2 linked regions of the Homo sapiens genome follow. The protein of the gene in region 1 interacts with the protein of each later gene in a pairwise test. Each region holds a gene or a part of one and is shown in the gene's direction. Other genes may lie near its edges.

Region 1 (3,818 bases):
TCCTTGAATTTTTCCTATTTCAACAGAGTATTGATTAATTGATTAATAATAATCTACAAGTTTTATTATGGTGCTATGTTGTTATTTTGTTTTATTTAGCACCAAAACAGCCTCAGAGTCCTGAGCCCCTCAGTTCCCAGCTCCTCCCACAGCTCTTGGCCCAACCTGACCCGGTCCTCCTACCCATACCTGTTTCAGAGCTAGGCTTGTCCTGCTTCCAAACACTCAGCCTCTCAGGCTCTTTGGAATAACCAAGCGAGCACAGACCTTGGAATGAGGCAGATTCGCAGCTGGGTGACCTTAAGCAAGTAACCCAACCTCCCTGAGCCTCCGTTTTCTTATCTATAATATAGGCAGGGGAGCAGGAAATAGGAACACCTACCCTTTATGTGTAACTGGAGCATTAAGAGAGAATACCTTTCACTCTGCCCTGTCTCCAACCTTTAACATTGCAAGAGAAACCATGGCAAAATCAAATTGCCCTTAAAGTGCAGAATTGTAAGGATGTGCTGAGGTATCCTGGAATCTGCTGTTTTACCTGGTTGAGTATTAAGTAAAATTGCTGAACATGCATTGTGGGCCCAACACAGTACAGAATGAATTACCTAAAGCACTCGTAAGTGAAGCCAATTCTTTTCCATGCCATCCACACCATGGAGCAGTTCTGACCCCAATTTGCAAGTGACCAAAGGCTCACCTGTCCTCTTTCTCAGCTGTGCATGTCTTACCTCCTCAGCTAGATGTTCATAGGCAGTACGGTGTTTCCTGTATCTTTTGGATTTCCAATGACATATAACCTAAAATTGGATCCTAGAGGTGCTAAAAACTGCCAATTCTTTAAGTGATTACTTGGATTAAAGCCCCCAAAAGATCTTAAATCTTTCTTCCTCCTGCCCTCCTCATATGCCCCAATCTCCTTTTTCCCAGTTAACATCCCCCAGACCCTAGGATGGAGACCCTGTCATAGATGGCGCAAAGCCAGTGACTCCAGAGCAAGGTCCAGAAGCCAAAGCTACCCGCTGCACTCATGGTGGCCCTGGGGTCTGATTGGGCTGGACTCGGCCACTTTTTAAAGGTGGGGCGAATAGGAGCTAGGTAAGGCAGAGAAGTCTTCCAGGCACTCGTCCAAAGATACCCAGCAAATTTTAAAGCCTTCATCTGGGAGAAAAAGCAGATCTTTACTGACATCCTTTTATTTCATGGCATTTGTTTGGCTAACTAAACCAGTTATAAACTAGTTTATGCTTTTTCAAAAGAGGAAATTTTGAGCCATTTCAGAGATGAGAATGAAAATGGGACTGTGCAGGGAAGAATTTAGTACTAGTTTTTAAGGTAAAACAAGGACTTGATGGAGTTTCTTTATCTAATAAAAAGGGAGCTCCAGGAGAGGCTGCAGGCTGCCTGGGTTGCTCCCTGACACTCCGGCCCCTGCTCTCGGCTGCCCGGCCCTCAGCTCCTCTCCTGTCCCTGTGTCCTTTGGCCCCTAGTCCCTGCTACTGTTACTGGCCTCCTTGCTCTAGCAATCACCGCAGCTCTGGGGTTTTGCTGCTTCGCACTCTCACCTAAGGCAACTGCACCTGCCTGTGTTCCCTGCTGAGCCACGCTGACTGCTTTTTATAAATCATAAATCATGGGATTAAGTGAGCCAATGTCAACCTGGTCTCAGGTGTAAAAGATAAGAATTCAAAAAGGAAGCATTTTCTGGGGATGATGCTTTCACCCATGATGGGGTGGTGACTGGTGTTGGTTTTGTAGGAGAGACACTGGGACACAGGGGCATCTGCCAGCTCCCCCACTGTGGTTGGCATGATTTGGGGCAAACACTGTTGTGATGAGAAGTAGATGGATTGAGAGATTCCAAGCTGCCTCTCTATCCTCCAGATGCCTGGTGCCCTGAAGGGAGCCCTAGTGCTGAGTGTAACTGGAGCAGCCTCAGCCCAGCCAGGACTAGACCAGGGACCAGCAGCCCCTGGTCAGGGAACCTTCTGGCAGCAGCTGTCTCTCCTCCAGGCAGGCTGCAGGAAGCTGTACAAGCTCCCCCTCAGGCACTTTGTAGTATATGTTTTAAATACCAAAATCAGAAAACTTGCAAAACAGCAAGAAACACACTTTTTTAATCTTCTCCACTTGATCAACAGAGTCAACACAATCCCTGTCAAAAGTCCAGAAAGCTATTTTGAAGATGTCAATAAACTTATTCCAGAATTTCTGTGGAAAAGCAGATGAGCTTGAAGAGCCAACAAAACAGTGAAAAAGAACAACAAAGTCAGAGGACTGTCACTCCTTACTTCACAGTAAGTCTGAGTAACTCTCAGACTTACTCTAAAGCCAGTAATCAAGACAGTGTGTTCTTAGCAAAAGAACAGACAAATAGATCAATGAAACAGTAAGGACCACACAAATACAGGCCCACACAAATATAGCCAGGTGATTTCAACAAAGGCACAAAAGCAATTCAATGGGAAAAGGGTAGACTTTTCAACAAACAGTGCTGGAACAATTGGACGTTCATATGAGGAAAAAATTATTTTAAACATAGATCTTATTCCTTACAGAAAAAACTTAACGCCAAATGATCATAGACCTAAATGAAAATTACAAAACTTACAACTTCTAAAAGAAAACATAGAAGAAAATCTCCATGACACTGGATTTGGTGTTTTTAGATATAACATGAAAAGCATCATCCATGAAAGAAAAAATAAATAATAGACTTTATTAAAATTTAAATGGCACCCCAGTAGCAACAAGTACATTGAGCACTCTGATCTTGGTTTCTAATACCATTCTGCACTGGAAGAAATCAGGGATCCCTGGGGGAAGTGGCTTATTCTATGACTATGTCAGGAAATAACAAGTTGAGCCTGGAACATCTTGCAGTGCCAGAGAGTAAATAAGTGTTCCAGAAAGCCACAGCGATGCAGGTCTGGCACAGGACACAGGTGCCAACTGAGAGAGCTCCCAGTGGCCAAAGTTGGAACAATTTAAGCAATAAAACAAATCAAATAGCATTGGATTATAATCTAAAGTATAAAATAGTTGTCCATGCATTCATACTGATAGAAACATAGGATTGAATAAATAAATAAATAGGGAAGGATAGGCTAATCTCCCATGCAGAAGAACTCCAAATGGATTATGTAGACACTCCACCCTCAAGGAGGTGGGGCAGAACTCTCTGCTCTGTATGTGAGGGCTATGCATTCTGACTTCCTTCCAAAGAATCCATTATGGAAACAGTGTGCAGGAAACACTAACTGCAGTGGGGAAACCCGGCAAGCATGAACTCAGCCAGGTGACCATGGTTAGCACCAGTCATGAGTCACCTTGATAGCGTGTCCCTTGATGTGATGTAATGAGAATGATAGTTTACATCTTGTGGTCTTCCTCCCGCAAGGTCCATAACCCCAGTCTAATCATGAGAAAAATGTCACACAATTGTGGCAATTCTACAAAATGTTTGAGCAGTACTCCTTAAAAATTTCAAGGTCATCAAAAGCAAGGGAAGTCTGAGAAAATGTCACAACCAAGAGAAGCCTAAGGAGACATGATGGCTAAAGGTAATAATACCATGTCCTGGATGAGACCCAGAGACACAAAAGGACATTAGGTTAAAATTAAGGACATTTGAATAAAGCATGGACTTTAGTTAATAACAGTGTGTCAATATTGGTCCACTAGTTGCGATAAATGCACCATACTCAGGTAAGATGTTAACATGATGTAAGATGCTAAACTGGGTGTGAGGTTTGTGGGGACTCTACTATCTTTGCAACTTTTCCATAAATTTAAAACTGTTCTAAAATAAAACGTTTATT
Region 2 (3,818 bases), on another chromosome or scaffold:
TTTAAGATCAACTATCTAATATAAAACCTACACCATATTCCTACCAGTGTGATATGATTTGGCTGTGTCCCCGCCTAAATCTCATCTTGAACTGAATTCCCATAATCCCCATGTGTCGTGGGAGGGACCCACTGGGAGGTAATTGAATCAGGGGGTTGGTTGCCTTCATGAGTTTTCATGAGACTGATGGTTTCATAAGAGGCTTTCCCTCTCTTCACTCTGACTTCTCCTTGCTGCCGCTATGTAAAGAAGGATGTGTTTGCTTCCCCTTCTGCCATGATTGTAAGTTTCCTGAGGCCTCCCTAGCCCTGCGGAGCTGTGAGTCAATTAAACCTCTTTCCTTTGTAAATTACCCAGTCTCAGGTATGTCTTTATTGGCAGCATGAGAATGGACTAACACCATAAATTGGTACTGAGGTAGTGGGGAGTTACTATTAAAGATACCAGAAAATGTGGAAGCGACTTTGGAACTGGGTAATGGGCAGAGGTTGGAACAGTTTGGAAGGCTCAGAAGAAGACAGGAAAATGTGGGCAAGTTTGGAATTTCCTGGAGATGTAGAGGGCTCAGAAGAAGACAGGAAAATGTGGGAAAGTTTGGAACTTCCTAGAGACTTGCTGAATGGCTTTGACCAAATACTGATAGTGATATGGACAATGAAGTCCAGGCTGAGGTGGTCTCAGATAGAGATGAGGAATTTGTTGGTAACTGGAGCAAAGGTGACTCTTGCTATGGTTTAGTAAAGAGACTGGTGACATTTTACCCTGCCCTAGAGATCTGTGGATCATCAGAGAGATGATTTAGGGTGTCTGGTAGAAGAAATTCCTAAGCAGCAAAGTGTTCAAGAGGTGACAGAGCATAAAAGTTTTGGAAAATTTGCAACCTGACAATGTGGTAGAAAAGAAAAACTCATTTTCTGGGAGAAATTCAAGCCAGCTGCAGAAATTTGCATAAGTAACAAGGAGCTAAATGTTGATTGCCAAGACAAAGGGGAAAATGTCTCCAGGGCATGTCGGAGACCTTTGTAGCAGCTCCTCCCACCCATGGCCTGGAGGCCTAGGAAGAAAAAATGGTTTTGTGGGCTGGGTTCAGGCCCCCCCTGCTGCGTGCAGTCTAGAGACTTGGTGCCCTGCATCCTAGTCATTGCAGCCATGGCTAAAAGGGGCCAAGGCATACAAAGGGGCCAAGGTATAGCTCAGGCTGTAGTTTCAAAGGGTTTAAGCCCCAAGCCTTGGCAGCTTCCATTTGGTGTTGAGCCTATGGGTAAACAGAGGTCAAGAATTGAGGTTTGGGAACCTCCACCTAGATTACAGAGGATATATAGAAATGCCTGGATGTCCAGCCAGAAGTGTGCTGCAGGGACAGAGCCCTCATGGAGAACCTCTGTTAGGGCAACGCAGAAAGGGAATGTGGAGTCAGAGCCCTCACACACAGTCTTCAGTGGGGCACTGCCTAGTGGAGTTCTGAGAAGAGGGCCACTGTCCTCCAGTCGCCAGAATGGTGGATCCACTGATAGCTTGCCCCGTGCACCTGGAAAAGCCACAGACACTCAATGCCAGCTGTGAAGGCGCCAGGAGGGGGCTGTACCCTACAAAGCCACAGGGGTGAAGCTGCCCAAGGCTATGGGAGCCCACCTCTTGCATAAGCATGACCTGAATGTGAGATATAGAGCCAAAGGAGATTATTTCAGAGCTTTAAGATTTAATTACTGCTTTATTGGATTTCAGACTTGCATGGGGCCTGTAGCCCCTTTGTTTTGGCCAATTTCTCCCATTTGGAACAGTTGTATTTACCCAATGCCTGTACCCCCATTGTATCTAGGAAGTAACTAACTTGTTTTTTATTTTACAGACTGATAGGCAGGAGTTGCCTTGTCTCAGGTGAGACTTTGGACTTGGACTTTTGAGTTAATGCTGGAATGAGTTAAGACTTTGGGGAACTGTTGAGAAGGCATGATTGTGTTTTGAAATGTGAGGATATGAGATTTGGGAGGGGCCAAGAGTGTAATGATATGGTTAGGTTTTGTGTCCCCACCCGTCTCATCTTGAACTGTAGTGCTCATAATCCCCATGTGTTGTGGGAGGGACCTGGTGGGAGGTAATTGAATCATGGGGGCAGTTATCCCCATGCTGTTCTCCTGATAGTGAGTGAGTTCTCATGAGAGCTGATGGTTTTATAAGGGGCTTTCCCCCTTTTGCTCACACTTCTTGCTGCCGCCATGTGAAGAAGGATGTGTTTGCTTCCCTTTCCACCATGACTGTAAGTTTCCTGAGGCCTTCTTAGCCATATTGAACTGTGAATCAATTAAACCTCTTTTCTTTATAAATTACCCAGTCTCAGGTATGTCTTTATTAGCAGTATGAGAATGGACTAAAAACTTCCACTGAATTATCCCAATGGGAGAGGAGGGTTAATCCTTATTTCTAGGATTCTGAAGCAGAGGCCAAAGGTGGCAGGAGCAAACATTTATTTGGTTCTTACAGTTTACTCTGTAACATATCTGCACTTATTTAATATAAAACATAATCCTCCAGGTCTTGTATTATTGATGCTCCAGGAAGATGAACCAGGTATGCCCTGAGACTCTGGGGACTATTTGGGACCCTTAGACCTTGGCAAGCTGAGGGACACTATATTCTTGCCCTCACTTTATAAAGCCCCTCTTTTCTGGCCAGGCCCCTCCCTGAAAGATGAGGAGGCTATGGGGTGCCTTGAGCCTGCACTGCCCTTGCACCCCAAACTCTGGTTTGCTTGTAATTGATTGTCCTGAGGTTGCAGTGGGTGCAGTAGGTGGAGAAACCACAAGAGCCACACATCCTAGTTTAAGAGCCCAGGCCTCAGAAGATAAGATGGTCATTAGAACGTTCAGCTTTTCTACTGCTGTGTCTCAAGCTCTTAAATAAACCACTGCTTTAACTTACATTTCCATTTCTGTGGAACAGAGCTGGAAATACCTGGTACCTCTCCTTTTCACTTGTTTGCTAAAAGAATGGTTCAGCTCAGGACCATAATAAATAGTGTGTGATATGGTGTGTGCTGTTTGGAGACAGATACCACAAGCCAAAAATACAAAGTAGTCTTGTTTGGCAAGTCATCCTCACAGTGATTTAAGACACGGCCAGTCTCTCTTCTTAGTCTTATTCTGCCAACTCTTTCAATAACTCCACTAATTAGAACTTAAAGAGTGGTTGATTCCCTGGTATTCTTAAAATGGTCTAATTTGAAAGTTTAAAATCTTTAAAGTTTTAATTCACCTAGTCAGGCCGTTTTAGAATAGCAGCTATATAAAACAGTATGAGGACTCAGTGAGAGGCCAAGTCTAGTCTTTGGGGAGTCTGATGTATACTTTCTTGCTACTAAAATGAGAGATTCAGATAATCCACATAATGGGATTTAAGAGAAGAGAGAGATCCTCAATGTAGTGAAATAGTTGGAGAGATCTACTTGGAGGAGGTAGTATCTGATCCCTACCCTCAAGGGTAGACAGGAATCTGGAAAGGAGGGAGAGGAAGTCCAGCTTGCAGGTGGAACTGAATGGGCAAAAGCTCAGAGGACCATTTTGAGGGTTCCCCCGCTGCAGGTTCCTGTACCATCATGAGCCCTCCCTTTTTTAATGACCCTGTTGTTTCTACTGTCTATGTCTTCAGGCTTTTGTGTTGTCCCTCAAGCTGTGTGTGTATGGGGGGGTGAGGGGTGTGGGGTGAGTGGGTGGGTGGGTGTATTTGAAAGAATGAAGTTCATTGTGTGGCAGAGGATAGTTTGAAATACAAGCCTGAATTCTTTAAGAGCACAGTCCACAGTCCTTGAATTTTTGACCTCT

The links.
Region 2: the proteins of MC2R (region 1) and MRAP2 interact in a two-hybrid assay, tested with the Homo sapiens proteins (one large-scale study listed by BioGRID and IntAct).

The regions. Positions count from the first base shown.
Region 1 is NC_000018.10:13,908,830-13,912,647, reverse strand, and holds part of MC2R (adrenocorticotropic hormone receptor), read left to right. Parts: intron 1-3,818. UniProt on the Homo sapiens protein: Hormone receptor primarily expressed in adrenal cortex that plays a key role in regulating adrenocortical function. Upon corticotropin (ACTH) binding, facilitates the release of adrenal glucocorticoids, including cortisol and corticosterone.
Region 2 is NC_000006.12:84,039,973-84,043,790, forward strand, and holds part of MRAP2 (melanocortin-2 receptor accessory protein 2), read left to right. Parts: intron 1-3,818. UniProt on the Homo sapiens protein: Modulator of melanocortin receptor 4 (MC4R), a receptor involved in energy homeostasis. Plays a central role in the control of energy homeostasis and body weight regulation by increasing ligand-sensitivity of MC4R and MC4R-mediated generation of cAMP.